2 separate regions of the Homo sapiens genome follow, and region 2 is linked to region 1. The links come from fine-mapping of genetic effects on gene expression. A gene starts in region 1. The other region holds a variant in brackets. All regions are shown on one strand. Distances are from middle to middle.

Region 1 (11,116 bases):
CCCCAGCACTTTGGGAGGCCGAGGCGGGTGGATCACAAGGTCAGGAGATCGAGACCATCCTGGCTAACACGGTGAAACCCCGTCTCTACTACAAATACAAAAAATTAGCCAGGCATGCTGGCGGGCGCCTGTGGTCCCAGCTACTCGGGAGCCTGAGGCAGGGGAATGGCGTGAACCTAGGAGGCGGAGCTTGCGGTGAGCCAAGATCGCGCCACTGTACTCCAGCCTGGGCGACAGAGCGAGACTCCGTCTCAAAAAAAAAAAAAAAAAAAAAAAAAAATTAGCTGGGCATGGTGGCGTGTAATCCCCGCTGCTAAAGAGGCTGAGGCAGGAGAATCACTTAAGCCCAGGAGGCAGAGGTCGCAGTGAGCTGAGATTGCGCCACTGCACTGCAGCCTGGGCAACAGAGCAAGGGTTTGTCTCCAAAAAAAAAAAAAAAAACACACACACACAACAACAACAAAAAAAACCCCAGCTCTGCAACTTTCTCTCTGTGAGAACTTCGGCAAGTGATGTCACCTCTCTGAGCCTCAGTTTCTCCCTCTGTGACACGGGGATGACAACAGTTCCTCCTTCATAGGTAGGTTGGAGCAGAGAAGGTCAATGAAGCTCTTAGAATAGCATATTGCCAATATCTTGTTATTAGTTATGTTACATTCTATAAAGCTGCTTTGAAGACTAAATTAATGACTATAAGACTGTTGCTCCTAGGGGAAATTTAAGCTTAGGTTCCTGTGAATCTCCAGTCATAACCTTTTTTGGAGACAGGATCTTGCTCTGTCACCCAGGCTGGAGTGCAGTGGCCCAATCAGAGCTCACTGCAGCCTCAAACTCTTGGCCTCAAGTGATCTTCCTGCCTCAGCCTCCCGAGTAGCTGGGATTACAGGCATGCACCACCACACCCAGCTCTGGTCACAAAATTTTAATCAACTGATCAATACACAACCTTGCTCTATGTGTGTTTCTGTTTGAAGACACCTTCCTGAATAGATATCGTTCATTCATTAACTTTGAATTCACAGCCAACAGCACAGTAGTTCATGCCTGAATGAAGCTTCTCTCTTTTTTGTTTTTTGGAAACAGGATCTTGCTCTGTCACCCAGGCTGGAGTGCAGTGGCGCAATCTCTGCCCACTGCAACTGCTGCCTCCTGGATTCAAGCGATTCTCATGCCTCAGCCTCCCAAGTAGCTGGGATTACAGGTGTTCGCCACCAAGCTTGGCTAATTTTTGTATTTTTAGTAAAGACAGGGTTTCACCATGTTGGCCAGGCTGGTCTCGAACTCCTGGCCCCAAGTGATCTGTCCACCTTGGCCTCCCAGAGTGCTGGGATTACATGCATGAGCCAATGTGCCTGGCTGACATGAGCTTATTGTGTGTGAGGGGGCCCTGGGTGAAATACTTATGGACTCCAGATTAACTCCTATAACATGGTTATTATTCCAGTTTTACAGATGGTGAAACTGAGGCCAAAGCACATGATGTGACTCATCAAGTCACATAACCAGTAAGTGGCAGAGCTCGGATTCCAACTCTCAGTCTCGGTCCAGACTTGATCTTTTTTTTTTTTTTTTTTTTTTTGAGACGGAGTCTTGCTCTGTCGCCCAGGCTGTAGCGCAGTGGTGCGATCTCGGCTCACTGCAAGCTCCGCCTCCCTGGTTCACGCCATTCTTCTGCCTCAGCCTCCTGAGTAGCTGGGACTACAGGCGCCCGCCACCACGCCCGGCTAATTTTTTTTTTTTTTTTGTATTTTTAGTAGAGACAGAGTTTCACCGTGTTAGCCGGGATGGTCTCAATCTCCTGACCTCATGATCTGCCTGCCTCGGCCTCCCAAAGTGCTGGGATTACAGGCGTGAGCCACCGTGCCCGGCCTCAGAGTCGATCTTGACTCTCTTACCCAGATCATTGGCTCCAGGAGAACAGGGGTCTTCTCTGTCTTCTTTCCCCTACCTACCCAGTGCCCCCAGTTCTGCGCCCGAACCACTTGCAGGAGATCAGAAAATGTTCTGAGGGTGTGTTAACCATCTCACCTTTGCCTTTGAGCTTCTCCAGGGCTGGGGGCTGGCCCCCGACCAAAGCCAAGAACTCAGCCTCCAGTTCTTCATCGTTAGCCCCGTCCTCAGGGATCATCAGGCCATCTGGGGAGAGGTCAACCAGCAGGCCCAGCTAGGGGAACAGCAAGGGTTCAGTCAGACCTTTGGTTCACCACATGGCTAGAGGCAGCCATGATGGCCAGAGAGTCCCCTTGGGAGGAAGGAAACAAGGTCTCCCAGGGAAAGCCATTTCCCTGGGGAGTGCCAGGAGGCTGGAACAAGCCCAGAACAGGTGTTCCAAGATAGGCCAGGCCCTCTGGCACAGTTCAACCTGGGGCAAAGGGCAAGAGACCCAGCTCTCTGATCTGAATCCACACTTATGATGTGCTGCTGGGCCAAGTTCAGTGGGAAAAGCAGGCCCCTGGCTGGGCGCAGTGGCTCACGCCTGTCATCCCAGCACTTTGGGAGGCCAAGGCAAGAGGATGGCTTGTGTCTGGGAGTTCCAGACCAGCCTGGGCAATACAGTGAGACCCCCAACTCTACAAAAAAAAAAAAAGTTTTTTGTTTTTTGTTTTTTTTTGACACAGAGTCTCGCTCTGTCACCCAGGCTGGAGTGCAGTGGTGCAGTCTCAGCTCACTGCAACCTCCGCCTCCGGGGTTCATGCCATTCTCCTGCCTCAACATCCCGAGTAGCTGGGACTACAGGCGCCCGCCACCACGCCCGGCTAATTTTTTTTTTGTATTTTTAGCAGAGACGGGGTTTCACCTTGTTAGCCAGGATGGTCTCGATCTCCTGACCTCATGATCTGCCCGCCTCGGCCTCCCAAAGTGCTGGGATTACAGGAAAAAAAACTTTTTAAAATTAGCTGGGAGTTGTGCTGTGTGCCTGTGGTCCCAGCTACTCGGGAGGCTGAGGCAGGAGGATCACTTGAGCCTGGGGAGATCAAGGCTGCAGTGAGCCATGACTGTGCTACGGCACTCCGCCTGGGCAACAGAGTAAAGCCCTGTTGAAAGGAAAGAAAGAAAGAGAGATGGAGCCGGGGAGGGAGAGAGGGAGGGAGGAAGGAGGGAAGGAAGGAAAAAAAGAAGGAAGCGAGGGAGGGAGGGAAGGAGGGAAGGAAGCAGGCTCCACACTTTGCCCAAAGCAAAGCTACTCTGTACACTTGGGCTTTTCTTTCCAGCATCCTCAGCAGAGGGGCTGTGTGGGAAGGTTGGGCTTCAAGAGCATGATGGCTGCATGCGGTGGCTCACGCCTGTAATCCAGGAGTTCGAGACCAGCCTAGCCAACATGGTGAAACCCCGTCTCTACTAAAAATACAAAAATTAGCTGGGAGTGCTGGCGGTGTCTGCAATCCCAGCTACTCGGGAGGCTGAGGCAGGAGAATTGCTTGAACCTGGGAGGTGGAGGTTGCAGTGAGCTGAGATTGCGCCACCAAACTCCAGCCTGGGCAACAGAGCAAGACTCTGTCTCCAAAAAAAAAAGAAGAGCAATTAGAAGCCCTGACGACAGGGCCAGGTGCAGTGGCTCACGCTTGTAATCCCAGCACTTTGGGAGACCAAGGTGGGGGGATCACCTGAGGTCAGCAGTTCGAGACTAGCCTGGCCAACATGGTGAAATCCCATCACTACTAAAAATACAAAAATTAGGCCGGGCACGGTGGCTCACGCCTGTAACCCCAGCACTTTGGGAGGCCGAGGCAGGCGGGTCACCTGAGATGGGGAGTTCGAGACAGACCAGCCTGACCAACAGGGAGAAACCCCGTCTCTACTAAAAAATACAAAATTAACCAGGCATGGTGGCGCATGCCTGTAATCCCAGCTACTCGGGAGGCTGAGGCAGGAGAATCGCTTGAACCCGGGAAGCGGAGGTTGCAGTGGGCCGAGATTGCGCCACTGCACTCCAGCCTGGGGCGAGAGAGCAAGACTCTGTCTCAAAAACAAACAAACAAAAAAAGAACCCCTAACCACAATGCAGGTTTGCCATGCAGACCCGTCTTCCTATCTTGGCTAATGACCAATCATGATGTGATAACATCGTGTTTAACCATATGAAATTGCCTTTCCTGTAGGTAAAAAATGGCCAAATATTGGCAATTATGTATGGTTCCACCAACTAGTAATAATGATAATAGTAACATTTATTGAGTGCTATGTTCTAGCACTTTCCATAAACTATCTCAATGACTCTCTACAACTGTCCTGTAATGTAGGGTCTCTTGGAGGTCTCCATTTTTAATTTTTTATTTATTTATTTATTTTCAGAAGGAATTTATTTATTTATTTTGAGAAGGAGCCTTGCTCTGTCACCCAGTCTGGAATGCAGTGGCGCGATCTCAGCTCACTGCAACCTCCGCCTCTCGGTTCAAGCGATTCTCCCACCTCAGCCTCCCGAGTAGCTGGGATTACAGGTGCCCGCCACCATGCCCAGCTAATTTTTGTATTTTTAGTAGAGATGGGGTTTCGCCATGGCCTCCCAAAGTGCTGGGATTACAGGTGTGAGACACCACCCCGGACTTCCATTTTTAATTTTTTATCTTTATTTTAGAGAAAGAGTCTTGTTCTGTCACCCAGGCTGGAGCAGAAGTAGCGCAATCATAGCTCACTGCGGTCTTGAACTCCTGGGCTCAAGCAATCCTCCCTTCTTAGCCTCCCAAGTAGTAGTACTACAGGCACATGCCACCATGCCCAGTTAGTCTTTTTTTGTCGAGACGGGGGTCTTGCTTTTGCCCAGGCTGGTCTCAAACTCTGGCCTCAAATGACTCTCCCACCTCTGCCTCCGCCTCCATCTCCTGAAGTGCTGGGATTATAGAGATCTCCATTTTACAGATGAGAAAGCTGAGGCTCAGAGCTGTAAAGTCAAGTGTCCGATGTACAGAGGCCAGGAGGGAACTTCAGGTCAGCCAGACTCTAATATCTGAACACCAAGCTATGTCCTGGGCTCCTTCCATCAAAACTGAGAAAAATCAAACTATCTGGTGCCTGGGGCAAAGAAGTCGGGAGAGTGAGAAGGGGTCCAGCCACAGTGCCATAAGCTTATGGCTGCAGCCCTGGATTTGTGCTTAGCCCTGGCCAAGCTGTTAATCCCTATGACCTTGGGCAGATGTCTTCACGTCTCTGAGTCTCAAAGTCCTCATCTGTACAATGGAATAAAAAGAGTCTGACATGGCCCGACTGATGCAAGGGTTTGATGTGTCAAGTCCGAGGACTGCCCCTCCTCGACTGGAGCAGCTGTGGCAACAGGTGGCCCCGAACCCGGGGCAGGGCCCCAGGAGCTGGGGAGCCAAGGCCAGTAGGCCACACTTGGGTGGTGTTGGAGCCTCACCTGGGGGGAGGCGGGGACCGGGGCTTACCTGTGGGGCGGAGATCGGGCTTCCCTGGGGGGTGGGGCCCTTCCCTGAGCGAGTGACGGGGGTGGGGAGGGATCCCCAGGTCGGGCCGTGGGGCGCAAACTCACCTGGCGGGCGGCCGCGGCGCCTCTGCCCGGGGGTCCCGGGGGTCCTTTCCTCTTGTGCATCTTCAAGGCTGGATGCCCGGACCACCTGCCCCCAAGCCCGGCCTTGCCCTGCCTCCTTCCCCGGGCTCTGTCGCCGCGCACTCGCCCTTCCTGAGTCCTGCACTCCTCGTCGGCGCCCCGCGGCCGTCGATCCCGAGCCCTCGCTTCCCTGCTTGGCCGTCCCACTTCCGCCTCGGGCCTCGGGCGCCGCCGCACCGGAGCGCGGCCACTGGGCTCGCCGGGTCTGCCGAGCCGAAACTACAACTCCCGGCAGGTAGTGCGTGGGCGCGCAGGCGCCTGGCTGGGGCGGTGCTGACTGTCGCGGGCTGCGAGGGCGGTGTTTGCGTCGCTCATGCGCGGGGCGGGACCTCGCGGGGCGCGGGAAAGAGGCAGAGCGCGCGCAGGTGTGAGGGGCGGCGACATCTGTGGGGTTCAGAGCGTCTGTCAGTCACCGACGGGCTCCGGCTTCACGTGGGCTCTCGGCCTGTGGAGTCCTCACTTCTCGGTGGTCGGCGTAGTGTCAGTGTGGGGCTTGTCACCGGGAGCGGGGTCTACAGCGCCCACCCTCAGGCCTTTCCATCTTTCACCTCCGGACTCGAGGCCTCCAGCGTTCTGTGAGGGCCAATTTGGCCATTTATTTTTTCCAAAAAGAGTAACGCGGATAATTCAAGCGACTTATTCCCAACTGATCCAGGCAGAGCTCGTTTCTGATAAGGACAGAGGGTCCTCAACGACTTCTGTGGCCCAGGTCCGTTCTGGTTTGCCTCGCCCCCAAGGCTGGGAGAAACCGGCCTATGGCAGCTCTTTCCCCTCCAAGGACCCAGCTGTCCCCTTTAAAGTGGCACGATCTTGGCTCATTGCAACCTCTGCCTCCTGGCCTTGTACCACAGCCTCCTGAGTAGCTGGGATTACGGGTGTGTGCCACCGCACCTGACTAATTTTTTTTTTTTTTTTTGAGACGGAGTCTCGCTCTGTCGCCCAGGCTGGAGTGCAGTAGAGCGATCTCGGCTCACTGCAACCTCTGCCTCATGGGTTCAAGGAATTCTACTGTCTCAGCCTCCCAAGTAGCTGGGATTACAGGTGTGCGTCACGATGCCCAGGCTAATTTTTGTGTTTTTAATAGAGAGGGGGTTTCACCATATTGGCCAGGCTGGTCTCCAGAGGCCCCTGGAGAGTCCTCAAGTGTCCTTGGAAGGGCCCCCAGATACCCCAGTCTGGAGGGAGGGGCTTCACACAGGCTGTTTCATCCTAGGGACCAGAGTCTGGGTCCCCGGGGCTATCTATAAGGACCCCCCAGGGCCCATTTGTCTTTCAGGTCCTGGGCATAAGATCTTCAGTTTGGAGGAGGTTTGAATTCCTACCTGGCCATGGCCCAAAGTGGCTGTGACTCTGTGTCCCATCCTGTGTCCCAGTGGGAGCCATCTGACCCCTGGGGCAGCCAAATGGGCTGAGGTGGAGGTAGGGGTAACCTCTGCTCTCAGCCAAAGCCACTGGATATAAACAGAGACAGAGACTGCTTATAATGATGAGAGATTTTGCTTGTTTTCAGATTTCTCAAGGGGAAGATAAAATGACTAAGAGGAAGAAGCTGCGGACCTCAGGTACGTTCATTCAAATGGACACTTGTTGATTTCTGCTTCTGCTTGTGGGAAGAATGTGGGCTTGTTTATTGCAGATCTGGCTAACACGACTGCCTTAACCTCCTTAAAAGGAAGCAAGGATTGGCCGGGTGCGGTGGCTCACACCTGTAATCTCAGCACTTTGGGAGGCCGAGGCGGGCAGATCACAAGGTCAGGAGTTCAAGACCAGCCTGACCAACATGGTGAAACCCCGTCTCTACTAAAAATACAAAAATTAGCCAGGTGTTGTGGCACATGCCTGTAGTCCCACCTACTCGGGAGACTGAGGCAGGAGAATCGTTTGAACCTGGGAGTCCGATGTTGCAGTGAGCCAAGATGGTGCCACTGCACTCTAGCCTGGGCAACAGAGCAAGACTCTGTCTCAAAAAAAAGAAAAAGACAAAAAGGATTTAATTCATGCTGGTAAGAAAAATAGAAGGCCGGTGTGGTGGCTCACGCCTGTAATCCTAGCACTTTGGGAGGCCGAGGTGGGCGGATCGCTTGAGTCCAGGAGTTCAAGACCAGCCTGGGCAACATAGCGAGATCCTGTCTCTACAATGTAAAGTAAGGAAATTAGCTGGGCGTGGTGGCAGGCACCTGTAGTCCCAGCTACTCAGGAGGTTGAGGCAGGAAGATTGCTTGAACTGGGAGGTGGAGGTTGCAGTGAATCCAGATCGTACCACTGCACTCCATCCTGACTGATAGATTGAGGCCCTGTCTCAAAAAAAAAAAGAAAGAAAGAAAAATAGAAATAACGGAGAGGGCATACAGGAAAAGTAAAAGTGAAAGTTTTCTGGAGCTTCTGCAAGCCTCTGGTGGGGTCCCACAGCTTAGAGGAGGCCTCCCCGGGCTTCAGGGCAGCGGGACAGCCTCCCTGCGGAACCAGTCCCAGAGATGACCCCTGGAATAATGCTTGATGTACTACAAGGCCACTCGGTATGTGGCTGAGTGTTTTACTCTGGGGCCCAAAACCTGGGTTCATCCCAGTTCTGCTCAGTGTGTGGTGGTGGATGATTTCCTCTGTGCCACAGTTTCCCCTTTTGTAAATTGGGGATAATAAAAGCCACTACCCTTTCCTTTAGAGCAGTGTTTCTCAACTAGGTGAGAGGAAGGGATTTTGACCTCCAGAGACAGCTGGCAATGTTTGGAGACTTTATTTTTTTTTTTTTTGGAGACCAAGTCTGACTCTGTCGTCCAGGCTGGAGTGCAGTAGCAAGATCTTGGCTCACTGCAGCCTCCACCTCCTGGGTTCAAGCGATTCTGCAGCCTCAGCCTCCTAAGTAGCTGGGACTACAGATGTGCACCACCACGCCCGCCTAATTTTTGTATTTTTAGTAGGGATAGGGTTTCACAATGTTGGCCAGGCTGGTCTCAAACTCCTGACCTCAGGTGATCTGCCTGCCTCAGCCTCCCAAAGTGCTGGGATTACAGGTGGGAGCCACCGTGCCCGGCCTAGAGACTTTTTTTGGTTTTCATAACTGGGGAAATTATACTGACATCTAGTGGGTGGAGGCCAGGGATGCTGCTCAAATATCCTACCATGCATAGGATGCCCCCCAGCCACAGAGAATGATCCAGCCCCAAATGTCCTCCAAGGTGAAGAATCCTGCCCTTAGAGCTCACATGTGGATTAGTATCTGTAAAGCACCCAGAACTGACCTAAGGTAGTACACAAATGTACACTGCTGTTAACAATTCTTCTTCCAGACTTTTAAGAAAACTTTTATTTTGAAGTAATCTGGGACTTAAAGAAAAGTTGCAAAAATAATTCAGAGAGTTCTAGCTACCCTTCTCCAAGCTTTCCCTAATGTTGACATCTAGCATAGCCATAGGACAGTGATCAACTGTAGAACAGCATGAAAAACAGGACAGGACTCTAACCTCGGTACACTGCTTCTAGACTTTTTTTTTTTTTTTTGAGACGGAGTTTCGCTCTTGTTGCCCAGGCTGGAGTGCAGTGGCGCGATCTCGGCTTACTGCAACCTCCACCTCCCAAGTTCAGGCGATTCTCCTGCCTCAGCCTCCCAAGTAGCTGGGATTACAGGCACCCACCACCATGCTGAGCTAATTTTTGTATTTTTTTAGTAGAGTCAGGGTTTGGTCAGGCTGGTCTTGAACTCCCAACCTCAGGTGATCTGCCCGTCTTGGTGTCCCAAAGTGCTGGGGATACAGGAGTAGGCCACCGCGCCCAGCCCAGACTTTTTTGTTTTTGTTTTTGAGACAGAGTCTTGATCTTGTTGCCCAGGCTGGCGCGATCTCGGCTCACCGCAACCTCTGCCTCCTAGATTCAAGCAATTCTCCTGCCTCAGCCTCCCAAGTAACTGAGATTACAGGCATATGCCACCATGCCCAGCTAATTTTTTTGTATTTTTAGTAGAGATGGGGTTTCTCCATGTTGGTCAGGCTGGTCTCGAACTCCCAACCTCAGGTGATCCGCCCATCTCGGCCTCCCAAAGTGCTGGGATTACAGGCATGAGCCAGCGCGCCCAGCTCAGACTTTTTTTTAAGATGATGTCTCACTCTGTTGCCCAGACTGGAGTGCAGTGGCACGATCTTGACTCACTGCAGCCTCCGCCTCCTGGTTTCAAGCGATTCTCTTGCATCAGCCTCCTGAGTAGCTGGGATTACAGGTGTCTGCCACCACGCTCAGATAATTTTTGTATTTGTAGTAGAGATGGGGTTTCACCATGTTGCCCAGGCTGATCTTGAACTCCTGGCCTCACATGATCTGCCCGCCTCAGCCAAAGTGCTGGGATTACTGGAGTGAGCCACCATACCCAGCTTTTTTTTTTTTCTTTTTTTCGAGACAGAGTCTTGCTTTGTCGCCCAGGCTGGAGAGCAGTGGCACAATCATAGCTCGCTGCAGCCTCGACCTCCCCAGGCTCAGGTGATCTTCCCACCTCAGCCTCCGGAATAGCTGGGACTACAGGTGTGTGCCACCATGACTGGCTAATTTTTGTATTTTTTGGAAGAGACGAGGCCTCACTATGTTGCCCAGGCTGGTCTTGAACTTCTGGGCTCCAGCAGTCCACCTGCCTTGGCCTCCCAATGTGCTCAGAATTACAGGCATGAGCCACCATGCCTGGTCAGACTTTTTCTGTATATATACAGATACAGTGTTGAGCTTTTTTCTTTTTTTTTTTTTTGGAGACAGTCTCACTCTGTCACCCAGGCTGGAGTGCAGTGGCACGATTTTGGTTCACTGTAACCTCTGCCTCCTGGGTTCAAGTGATGCTCATGCCTCAGCCTCCTGAGTAGCTGGGATTACAGGTACCTGCCACCATGCCTGGCAAATTTTTGCATTTTTAGTAGAGACGGGGTTTCACCATGTTGGCTAGGCTGCTCTCTAACTCCTGACTTCAAGTTATCCGCCTGCCTCAGCCTCCCAAAGATTACAGGCATGAGCCACCGTGCCTGGCCCAGATAAAATGTTTTTATTGGAAAATCGAATCATCACACTTACTGATCTGCAACCTCCATTTTTCACTTTGTGGTAGATCATGACCATGTTTACTTGTCAACATACCTATACAATTTCATCATTTGAAAAGAAAAACACCCCAAAATAGCCAGGCTTGGTGGTACGCACCTGTACTCCAGGCTACTTGGGAGGCCGAGGTGAAAGGATTGCCTGAGACCAGGAGTTCATGACCAGCCTGAGCAACATAATGTTACCCAGTCTCTAAAAAAAAAAAAAAATTTTAATTAACCAGTGTGGTGGTGCCTACCTGTAGTCCTGGCTACTTGGGAGATTGAGGCAGGAGGATGGCTTGAGCTGAGGAGTTCCAGGCTGCAGTGAGCTATGATTGCGCCTGCACTCCAGCCTGGGCCACAGAACAAAACCCTGTCTCTTAGAAAAAAAGAAAGATTGTTGGGCACGATGGCTCATGCCTGTAATCTGAGCACTTTGGGAGGCCGAGGCAGGTGGATGGATCATTTGAGGTCAGGGTTCGAGACCAACCTGGTCAACATG
Region 2 (11,116 bases), 21 kb before region 1:
TGAGGAGGCTGGGTGAGGTGGCTCATGCCTGTAATCCCAGCACTTTGGGGAGCCAAGGCAGGAGAATCGCTTTAGGCTATGGGTTTGAGACCAGCCTGGCAACACAGCAAGACCCTATCTCTACCAAAAAAACATAGCCAAGCGTGGTGGCACATGCCTGTAGTCCCAGCTATTCAGGAGGCTGAGGCAGGAGGATCGCTTGAGCCCAGAAGTTTGAGGCTGCAATGAGCCGTGATCGGGCCACTGCCCTCTAGACTGGGCAACAGAGCAAGACCCTGTCTCTTGAAAAAAAAAGTGATGAAAGAGGTATGGTGCGATTCAATGACTGACTCATTTAATCAAGTGGGGACCTGTCTGTCTGTGCCTTCCTGGGAAGGGCCTTAGTTTACCTCTGCAGAAGGGAGGAATTTGGCAATCATGGGGGGTGGGGGGCAGAAGGGCCAGGCTGGTATGAAGGGGGCAGGGGACTCTCAGAGAGGTTGGGGGCTGGCTGAGCTGAGTGGCCCAGGCCTGGGGCTGCCACGATGCCATCTATAACCCCCTGCCCAGATGCTGGACCTCAGCCACAATGAGCTGTCCTTTGTGCCCCCGGACCTGCCTGAGGCCCTAGAGGAGCTGCACCTCGAGGGCAACCGCATCGGCCACGTGGGCCCCGAGGCCTTCCTCAGCACACCCCGCCTGCGTGCCCTCTTCCTCAGGTGCCCCGAGGGTGACCGGAGGGGTGGAGGTGGGCAGGGGAGGGCCTGGGAGGGTCATGACCGCCTCTCTGTGCAGGGCCAACAGGCTTCACATGACGAGCATCGCGGCTGAGGCCTTCCTGGGGCTCCCAAACCTGCGTGTGGTGGACACGGCAGGGAATCCGGAGCAGGTCCTGATCCGGCTGCCTCCCACCACCCCACGTGGGCCACGGGCAGGGGGCCCCTGATCCTAGAGAGGCCCAGCAGAGCAGCTCAGACTCCTGGGACTCCGCTGGGCCGTGGACTGAGGAGACAACGCCCACCAGGGGCCCTTGGTCTGGCTCTCCTGGGCCTCCAGGGCTGGGCCTGCTCTGCCTGCCACTGGCCGAGACACAGAGGCACACAGCTGGCATACTCCAGGCTCACAGACCACGCCGGCCTGGCGGGACACACCCTACCCCAAACTCCCAACACAGATGGAGGCAGCAACAATAAAGCCAAACCCTTCCAGCACTCAGCACGGACCAGGCACCCTTTGGGGGCTCTGTCCACGGACTCCTCCCCACAACCAGTCCAGCTGGGGAAACTGAGGCTCTGGGATGCTAAGTGGGTCAGGACTGAATTTTGAGGTCTTGAGGCACACACTGGGGTCACCAAACAGCACCCTGTGCGACCTAGCCACGTGTGATTGCAGGGACGCCCAAGGCCACCCACTGAAAAAACACTGGGTGACAGATATAGGGACCCTCACATGTATCCCCCCCCACAGCAAGCATGGGAATGAAATGCATCCTTCAAGCTGGGTGTGTGGTGGTGCCCTTCTGTAATCCGTTAGGAGGCTGAGGCAGGAGGATCATGTGAGCCCAGGAGTCGGAGGCTGCAATGAGCTGATTGTGCCACTGCGCTGCAGCCTGGGTGACAGAGGGAAACCCGGTCTCTAAAAAAAAAAAAAAAAAGCACCTTTCACAAGCACACTGTCCCTCCCCAAAACTGCTTCCCTAACAGGCGCCTCCCCATCCACTTCCAGGGGAACCGGGGGGTGGGTGGGAAGACCTAGCCTGGCCACCGAGGGTCTGAGCAAGAAACAGACAGGACAGAGCTGGGCTGAGTGTGGCCCTGGCTATTTTATTCCATGTGCTGGCCCTGGGGACCCAGCTGGGCCAGGTCGACGCCCCTGGGGAGACAGTGTGGCTCGGCCAGCCTCAGTGGCTTCTTTGGGGTGCAGGAGGGCTTTGGGGTTAAGGCTGGGGAGGAACAGGAAGTAAAGTGCTTGCAGGGGCCCTCGGGGCTTGGCCCCAGCCACCCTCCCTGCTCCGGGGCGGGCCAGAGGCCGGACACCCCTGGGCTGTGCAAACAGGACTCTCCAGGGCCCAGCCAGGCCTGGGTGAGGGGCACATACTGGCTGGCAGGCATGGTTCCCAACACCCGCAGCCACGGAGGCTCTGGCGGGGCTGGGGGCCCGGATGAGGGGTGAGTCCAGAACCGATTGTCCGCTGATTGTCTGCTTGTCTGGTTCGTGGCTGTGTCGGCTCTTCCCGGTATCGGGGCCTGCTGCCCGCTTTCTGGGGGCTGCCCGCCCCATGGGCTCCTCACCTGCGGAGCCGCTGCAGCTGGGGGAGAGGAGGCCACTGGGGTCATGGAGGTGGGCTACGACCACAGTGATCCCCCAACCACCCCATCTCCTAAGCTGCTTACCTCACTCTCTACCAGATTCCGCCTATAGAGCGCCTCCTTTGCAGCATCCTGTGGGGGATGGGCATTCAGCAGGTAGTCCCTGCAGGCCCCACCCTGCCCGCTGCCCAGTGCCCACCCGGCCCGCGACCAGCTCACCCTGCTGCCATCGTTGCCCAGGCGCCGGGCAGCCTCCGTGTAGAACTGCAGCTGCCGCTCCAGCTGGGCTGCGTATTCTGAGAATGGATGGCGGGGGAATGGAGGCTTAGGGTGGGGCCTCACTGCCCACAACCCTCCTGGACTGTGCCCATCCCCAAGCCCGTCCCCCGCCAGGTGCCCATCCCCGAGCCCCTCCCCCTCCAGGTGCCCATCCCCGAGCCCCTCCCCCTCCAGGTGCCCATCCCCGAGCCCCTCCCCCTCCAGGTGCCCATCCCCGAGCCCCTCCCTCTCCAGATGCCCATCCCCGAGCCCCTCCCCCTCCAGGTGCCCATCCCCGAGCCCCTCCCCCTCCAGGTGCCCATCCCCGAGCCCCTCCCTCTCCAGATGCCCATCCCCGAGCCCCTCCCCCACCAGATATGCATCCCTGAGCACCTCCCCCCCCATGCCTATCCTGGAGCTCCTCCCCCACCAGATGCCCATCTCCAAACCCCTACCCCGTCGGATGCCCACACCCCCCTGCTCCAGCTGTGCCCTCTGCCACTGGCTGCGTTGCATGATGTCCTGGTACTGCTGGGCCACTTCTGGGGGCACCGGCCGCCGCGCCTGCCTGAGGGCCAGGATCTAGAGGATACAGAGGGTCCTGTGAGGATCCTGCCTGGGCCTGCAGACTCCCCAGTCCTGCCCCATGTAGCCCGGCAGGATGGATACCCACCTTCCGCTCCAGACGCTCTTGGTCAAACGCCAGCACACTGAGGCTATGCAGGGGCCGGGCTGATCTAAGGGGTGGAGGAAGGATAAGGGACTGCAGAGATTCCCCCAGCCCAACCCTGTTAATTCAAAAGACACACTGGGCTGGGCACAGTGGCTCACGCCTGTAATCCCTGCACTTTGGGAGGCGGAGGTGAGTGGATCATGAGGTCAGGAGTTCGAGACCAGCCTGGCCAATATGGTGAAACCCCGTCTCTACTAAAAATAGAAAAAAAATTAGCTGGGCATGGTGGTGTGCTCCTGTAGTCCCAGCTACTTGGGAGGCTGAGGCAGAAGAATTGCTTGAACCTGGGAGCTGGAGGTTGCAATGAGCCGAGATCACACCACTGCACTCCAACCTGGGTGACAGAGCAAGATTCTGTCTCAAAAAAAAAAAAAAGCCGAGCATGGTAGCTCATGCCTGTAATCCCAGCACTTTGGGAGGCCGAGGCAGGCAGATCACCTGAGGTCGGGAGTTCGAGACCAGCCTGACCAACATGGAGAAACCCCATCTCTACTAAAAATAGAAAAATTAGCTGGGTGTGGTGGCGCATGCCTGTAATCCCAGCTACTCAGGAGGCTGAGGCAGGAGAATCGCTTGAACCCCAGAGGCGGAGGTTGCTGTGAGCTGAGATCGCGCCATTGCACTCTAGCCTGGGCGACAGAGCTAGACTCTGTCTCAAAAAAAAAAAAAAAAAAAAAAGACACACTGGGCACTGGGGGTATGGTGGGAGACAGCCGAGAACCACCCGGTGTTACTGATCCCAAAACCTAGCGGGGATGATGGCTGCACACCCAGGAAACTATGATGCCTAGTGGTCAGGGAGGGCTTCCTGGAGGAGGTAACAGCCAAGTTGGGATCCAAAGAAGGAATCAGAGGTGGGCAGAGGAACAAGGAACACCCCTACCCTAGGTAGGGGTGTTCAGGGCACTGGAACCCACAGAAGTCCAGAGGCCAGTGAAAACTATTCATGGACATGAACCACAGGAGGGAGTAGGGAGAGAGAAGCCTGGATATGTTGACAATGGTCAGATCACAAAAGGTTTTAAAGACCAAACCAAGGAGTTTAAACTGGATCCTCTGGGAAAAGGGGTGCCAAGAAAGGTTTTGCAGCAGGAGAGGGACGTGGTCCAATTTGTGCCTGGTGGGAAACTGTCCAGGTGGGGCTGAGAGGGGAATTGGGTGTTTTCTCCAGCATGCCCTGGCCCAGATACCTACCTGTTCCCTGACTCCCTTGCAGGGGCAGGCACAGGAGGGGCCTTCCCTTTGGGCCCAGCAACCTGCTTCAGAGGAGAGAACCAGTCCTGTGAGTCCTGGGCCCCTGAACCAAGCTTCCCTCCCTGGGGTTGCTGATGGGTGGGGGTGGGGGGTCTCACTGTGGGCACAGCTGCCGGCACAGGGTCAATGACCAGCCACCTCTCTGTCGTCGTCTCCAACTGCTGGGCTGTCAGTGGCTCCCGAATCCGGACCATTACCTCCAGTCGCCCCCCTGTGGGCCGGCGACCATCCAGGACCTGGGTGGGGGTAAGGAGAAACTGTTGGTGGGAAGCAGGAAGTGACTAGAGGCCCAGGGCCAGGACAAGGGAGAACAAGACTGGTTTTTTTTTTTGGTTTTTTTTTTTTCTGAGATAGAGTCTCGCTCTGTTGTCCAGGCTGGAGTGCAGTGGTGCAATCTGGGCTCACTGCAAGCTCCGCCTCCTGGGTTTACTTACGCCATTCTCCTGCCTCAGCCTCCCGAGTAGCTGGGACTACAGGCGCCCGCCACCATGCCTGGCTAATTTTTTTGTATTTTAGTAGAAACAGGGTTTCACCATGTTAGCCAGGATGGTCTCGATCTCCTGACCTCGTGATCTGCCCGCCTCAGCCTCCCAAAGTGCTGGGATTACAGGCATGAGCCACCATGCCTGGCCAAGAGTGGTTTCTAAAATATGAGCCCATGGTATGGCTGAGATACCAGTTGATCATAATGGAGTGGGGTACTGCAAGTATTTAGGGCTGGGCAGTAGGGAGGTCTGAGGCTCTGAGGGGAGGGGCTGGGTCAACAGACAGGCTCATAGAGGGCTCAAGGCAGGAAGTGTTTTAATAATGTTAACGAGTAGCATGGCCATACCGGAGCA[C/T]GCGGATGAATGTCCACCTCTCACCTCAAGGATCTCCCGGACCTCACATGCTATCTCCAGTGCATCCAGCTTCAGCTGGGCTGTCCCCAGCACCCGGTCAGTCTTGAACAGCCCCCTGTGTGCATGTGTGTATAGTGGGGACAGGATGGTTGGTTCAGAGGAGCTCCCCTCCCCTGGAGCCCACCCAGCGGCCATGGCTCTCTCTAGCTCACCCCTTGTGAACCACTTCGAACTTGATGCCCTTGGTCTGGATGGCCCTTCGGAAGCCACGGTGGCTGCGGTTGATGCAGAGTTTGAACTGCTCCTTGAACTCTGCAGGAGGAAGGAGGGAGAGGAAGTTGGGTGGGGTCAGGCCATTGTCTTATGTCCCTTCTGCTGCAAGGGAGTAGGGGTAGGGTGCTTCCAGCCGAGGCTCACCAGGGGAGTCTGTGTTCTTGATCACACTGGTCTTGTCTTTCTGAGCTTCTTCCTATGACCAGAGAGGAGGCAGGAAATCTAGGGGGCCTGGGACCTGGCTTTGGCCCACTGAGGCTGCAGCCCTCCCCTCCTCAGCTCCCCACGTACCACGTTGGGATAGGGGAAGTCAAACCGAACAAAGACATCCAGATCGCCAGGGGACAGTCCTGTGGGCAAACAACGGTCAGAGCTGGGCAGAGAGGGGGTCCCCATGACCCTGACCCTTGCCTACAGCCCCCTCACCTGGGGGTGTGGGCAAGTTGATGCCCTTCACGATGAAGAGGAGCATGTCGTTGCTGCTGAGGTCAGGGAAGATCCTTCCGGGTGGGCAGGTGGGCAGGCAGGTGGGCAGGGAAACAGAGGCACCTCAGTCCCACTGCCCGCCTGCCTTCTCTTCCCCCAGTGGGGGCAGGGAACAAACCCCACCCTGGCCTTCGGGGGTGTCTCAGCTCCTGGGCTCATTTTAGAATCAGACAGACTAGAGTTCTCTGTTCAGGTTGGCAATGGATCACTTTCGAGTCTTTTCTTCAGTCTGTGTATATTTATTTGGTATCTACTGTGTGCTAGGTACCCTAGCTGCTGGGTGATATTCCCTTCACTTAACAGTTGTTGAGTCCTACTAAGCATCAGCCAGTGCCCTAGCTGCTGGGAGATCTTTCCTTCATTTCCCAATGTTTCTTGAGCACCTACTATGTGCCAGCCAGTACCCCAGCTGCTGGGGGACCTTCTTTTCACTTAATATATATGTGTGTGTGTGTGTGTGTGTGTATATATACATATATATACGTGTATATATATATATATACACATATATATACGTATATATATATATACACACATATATGTATATATATATACACATATATATACGTGTATATATATATATATATATATATATATTTTTTTTTTTTTTTTAGACAGAGTCTTGCTCTGTCGCCCAGGCTGGAGTACAATGGTACGACCTCAGCCCACTGCAACCTCCACCTCCCAGATTCAAGAGATTCTTCTGCCTCAGCCTCCTGAGTAGCTGGGATTACAGCTGCCCGCCACCACTGCTGGATAATTTTTATATTTTTAGTAGAGATGGGGTTTCACCATGTTGGCCAGGCTGGTCTCGAACTCCCGACCTCAAATGATCCGCCTGCCTTGGCCTCCCAGCCTGGCCTCACTTAATATTTTTTGAGTCCTATTAAAGCACCAGCTAGTGTCCTAGTTGCTGGGGGACCTTCTATTCATTTCACAATATTTCTTTTTTTTTTGAGACAGTCTCACTCTGTCGCCCAGGCTGGAGTGCAGTGCGATCTCTGCTCACTGCAAGCTCTGCCTCCCAGGTTCATGCCATTCTCCTGCCTCAGCCTCCTAAGAAGGTGGGACTATGGGCGCCTACCACCACGCCCGGATAATTTTGTGTATTTTTAGTAGAGACGGGATTTCACCATGTTAGCCAGAATGGTCTCGATCTCCTGACCTCGTGATCCACCCACCTCAGCCTCCCAAAGTGCTGGGATTACAGGCGTGAGCCAGCACGCCTGGCCTCATTTCACAATATTTCTTGAGCACCTACTATGTGCCAGTCAGTACCCTAGCTGCTGGGGATCTAGAAGTAAATACCCATACCCTGTGCTCAATCTAGCTGAGTGGACAGATGAGCATAAGTACATAAATAGAAAAACAATAAAAAACTCAGCAGAGAGGGGAGAGTGGAGTGTGCTCAGAAGAGACTGCTCGGATAGATAGGGAGGGCCTCTTAGAGGGAAGGTGACATCATAGGTGACTCTAGATGTCAAGAGGGAGCTGCCACATGGAGACCTGAGGAAGAGGGTGAAGGCGGAAGAAATAGCTGATGCAGAGGCTTGGGGTAGGAACACACTTTGTTTGTAGGAGGGACCAAAAAGAGTCCCTTGTGGCCAAAGCTGAGTGAAGCGGGGACAGGAGGCAGAGAAGAGGTGACAAGGAGCCAGGCTGTGTGGAGATGGGGGAGCCAGGGTAAGGGGTGGGGGTTATCCCAAGGGCAGCTGGGAACCACCGGAGGGCTAGTGGCTGCACCTAACCTCATTTAGAAAGTGGAGAAAATGGGCCGGACGCAGTGGCTCACTCCTGTAACCCCAGAATTTTGGGAGGCCAAGGCAGGCGGATCATTTAAGGAGACCAGCCTGGCCAACTGAATGAAACCCCGTCTCTACTAAAAATACAAAAATTAGCTGGGCATGGTGGTGGGCACCTGTAGTCCCAGCTATTTGGGAGGCTGAGGCAGGAGAATTGCTTGAACCTGGGAGGCAGAGGTTGAAGTGAGCTGAGATTGCGCCACTGTACTCCCGCCTGGGTGACAAAGTGAGACTGTCTCAGAAAAAAAATTTTAAAAAAGGCCGGGAGTGGTGGCTCACGCCTGTAATCCCAGCACTTTGGGAGGCCGAGGTGGGCGGATCACGAGGTCAAGAGATCGAGACCATCCTGGCTAACACGGTGAAATCCCGTCTCTACTAAAAATACAAAAAATTAGCCAGGCGTGGTGGTGGGCGGCTGTAGTCCCAGCTTCTCGGGAGGCTGAGGCAGGAGAATGGCATGAATCCAGGAGGTGGAGCTTGCAGTGAGCAGAGATCACACCCCTGCACTCCAGCCTGGGCAACAGAGTGAGACTCTGTCTCAAAATAAAAATAAAAATAAAGTGGAGAAAACAATCCCCGCTCCTCTGGGCATGGGAAGACTTGATAGTACCAAGACTAACACCCACCAAAGCCGTGACTCATCTCTGGTCCCCCGTGGACTCACCCAGGCCCTGGGACAAGATACACCTTTGCACTCTCTAGATCTTTCCCAAATGCGTCACTGTGACTGCACCCTCACCATCCTTCACTTGTATCTCATGCCTGCCCCAGAGCCTTTGCATGCTCTGTGCTCTTCCACCTATCCAAAATTTCTTCCAGATGTAAATCTTGTGCCAGCTTCTGGGGAGCACAACCCGCCCCACCGCCACCAAAGGGCCACTGGGGCCACGTGGTGGGGCGTAGATCAGGAGCCTTACTTGATGACGCTGAAGGTCCTTTGCTCAAAGCGGGCGGTGGGCGTGGGGAGACCCCGGACGAAGGCTTGCTTCAGAATGTCCATGCTCCGCTTACAGTCCTCCGCCAACTTTTCAAACCTGCCGGTGGGAGGGCCCTGCTCATGTCCCTGGCCCTGGGGATGGGTGGCTGGGGGTGCAAGTGTCTGGCACAGGTCAGGGCACTTACTTGGTGGTTTCAGTGATGTTGCCCAGCTGGGTGAATTGGTTTGAGTGGTTCAGGCACATCTGGGGAAACAGAAGGCAGTGAGTCGAGGGAAGGGAAGAGAGGGGAAGGAGGGTCACGCTCCTGGGGGATGGGCTGGGGGCCTCCCCCTCACCTCGTGCTGCTGCCGTATGAGCTTGGTGAGTTCACCATAGCGCCGGGCGGCCTCCTGAGACAGACCCGGGCCAGGCCGCTGGACCAGGGCAAAGTCGTCCTTGTTGACAGGGGCAGGCGGCACCTGGGGAGGACGAGGCTGGTGGCGGGGGTAAGGAGGACAAGCAGGCCCACCTAGGGCTCTGCAGAAATGTCATTCTTCCTTGACGAGGGGCATTCCCTGACCACGGCTCTGTCACCCTTCTCTGGTCTTTTTTTTTTTTTGAGATGGAGTCTCGCTCTGTTGCCCAGGCTGGAGTGCAATGGCGGGATCTCAGCTCACTGCAACTTCCACCTCCCGGGTTCAAGTGATTCTCCTGCCTCAGCCTCCTGAGTAGCTGGAATTACAGGCGCCTGCCACCACACCTGGCTAATTTTTGTATTTTTAGTAGAGACAGGGTTTCACCATGTTGGCCAGACTGGTCTCGAACTCCTGACCTCAAGTGATCCGCTGGCCTTGGCCTCCTTAATTGCTAGGATTACAGGCATGAAAGACCATGCCCGGCCTCTGTTCTTTCTTCTTGATCCTTCCATTGTCCCATTTAACAAGGGCATCCTTCAGTCACCCCAGAAATCATGTATGGTGCCGGGTGCAGTGGCTCATGTCTATAATCCCAGAACTTTGGGAGGCTAAGGCGGGTGGATTGCTTGAGCTCAAGAGTTTGAGAAATCATGTATGGAGCCCCTACTGTGCGCTAGGCTCTGCTTTGGGGCTGGGGACACAAGGATGAAGAAGAGAGAACAAAATCCCTGCCCTCGTGGGGCTGACATTCTCTTGGGGGAGATGGGCAATAATCAGAAGAAATAAGTAAATCATATGAGAGAGTAGAAGGTGATACATGCCACAGGGAGAGGCAGAGCTGGGAGGAGGAGCAGAGGGATCTGGGTGACAGGGAGGGATTTTAGACAGCTCAGGGTAGGCCTCCTGGAGATGTGATGTCTGAGCAGAGACCTAATGATGGGAGAAAGTGAACCACACAGGTGTCTGTGGGAAAAGCATTCAGGCAGTGGGAACTGCATGTGCAAAGGCCCTGAGGTTGCAGAGTGCCTGGTGTTTGAGGCTACCAGACAGCAAGGGGAAGAGTGAGCGAGGGGGTGGGTGAAAGAGAAGGGGCAGGCCGGGCACAGTGGCTCATGCCTGTAATCCCAGCACTTTGGGAGGTCGAGGCAGGTGGATTGCCTGAGGTCAGGAGTTCAAGCCCAGCCTGGCCAACATAGTGAAACCCCATCTCTACTAAAAATATAAAAATTAGCCGGGCATGGTGGCGTGTGCCTGTAGTTCCAGCTACTCGGGAGGCTAAGGCAGGAGAATCGCTTGAGCCTGGGAGGTAGAGGTTGCAGTGAGCTGAGGTCGTGCCACTGCATTCCAGCCTGGATGACAGGGCGAGACTCCGTCTCAAAACAAAACAAAACAAAACAAAAACAAGAAAGAGACCAGGCAAGGGAGCTGATGGGGCAGATGGTGCAGTCTTCATGGGCCGTGATAAGGTGCTGTATTTATTTGTGTGTTTCTTGTGGTCTCTCAATTAGAACATCCACTCCATGACAGTGAGTCTCACTGTGTTTCCCAGGCTAGTTTCGAGCTCCTGGCCTCAAGGAATCCTCCCACCTCAGCCTCCCAAGTAGCTGGAATTACAGGTGTGACCCACCATGTCCAGAGAGAGTGTGGATTTTTGCCTTTTTTGCTCAAGGCCATGTCTCCAGTGTCCAGCAAAGACTACATGTCCCAGGCTCCTCTGAGGCTAAATGTAGCCATGTGACTGTTTGGGCCAATGGGAGGCAAGCAAAAGTGATGTCACTTCCTTAAACTGGGTGGCCTTTGCTGGGCGCCCAGTTCAAGCTCCTCAAATGTTTCCTATTATGAGTACTATT

Direction of the effects. Positions count from the first base shown, and alleles are read on the strand shown. Sizes are in standard deviations (SD) of each study's normalised expression.
For the expression in non-classical monocytes of the gene that starts at base 5,786 in region 1, C is the high allele of the variant in region 2 and T is the other (large effect, 0.76 SD a copy in Schmiedel 2018).

What was found.
Region 2: its variant is fine-mapped to the expression of CC2D1A in non-classical monocytes (Schmiedel 2018, PIP 0.95).

The regions. Positions count from the first base shown.
Region 1 is chr19:13,900,871-13,911,986 of GRCh38, reverse strand. It overlaps CC2D1A (coiled-coil and C2 domain containing 1A), which reads right to left and starts at 5,786. Exons shown (of 29, transcript NM_017721.5): 1 at 5,486-5,786; 2 at 2,029-2,164. The coding sequence starts at 5,545. It overlaps BRME1 (break repair meiotic recombinase recruitment factor 1), which reads left to right and starts at 5,870. Exons shown (of 9, transcript NM_001345843.2): 1 at 5,870-6,272; 2 at 7,074-7,125. The coding sequence starts at 7,095. RefSeq lists a silencer at 5,412-5,471.
Region 2 is chr19:13,921,546-13,932,661 of GRCh38, reverse strand. It overlaps CC2D1A (coiled-coil and C2 domain containing 1A), which reads right to left. Exons shown (of 29, transcript NM_017721.5): 15 at 9,207-9,329; 16 at 9,056-9,114; 17 at 8,851-8,967; 18 at 6,072-6,145; 19 at 5,937-5,995; 20 at 5,790-5,841; 21 at 5,585-5,684; 22 at 5,397-5,487; 23 at 4,632-4,769; 24 at 4,474-4,538; 25 at 3,220-3,283; 26 at 3,002-3,128; 27 at 2,508-2,584; 28 at 2,373-2,420; 1 more. The coding sequence ends at 2,267. It overlaps PODNL1 (podocan like 1), which reads left to right. Exons shown (of 10, transcript NM_001370095.3): 9 at 550-698; 10 at 775-1,475. The coding sequence ends at 925. Among named protein-coding and RNA genes, the nearest start is that of PODNL1, 11 kb to the left of the region's middle. RefSeq lists a silencer at 10,920-11,116. The variant C/T (reference allele first, on the strand shown) is at 5,373.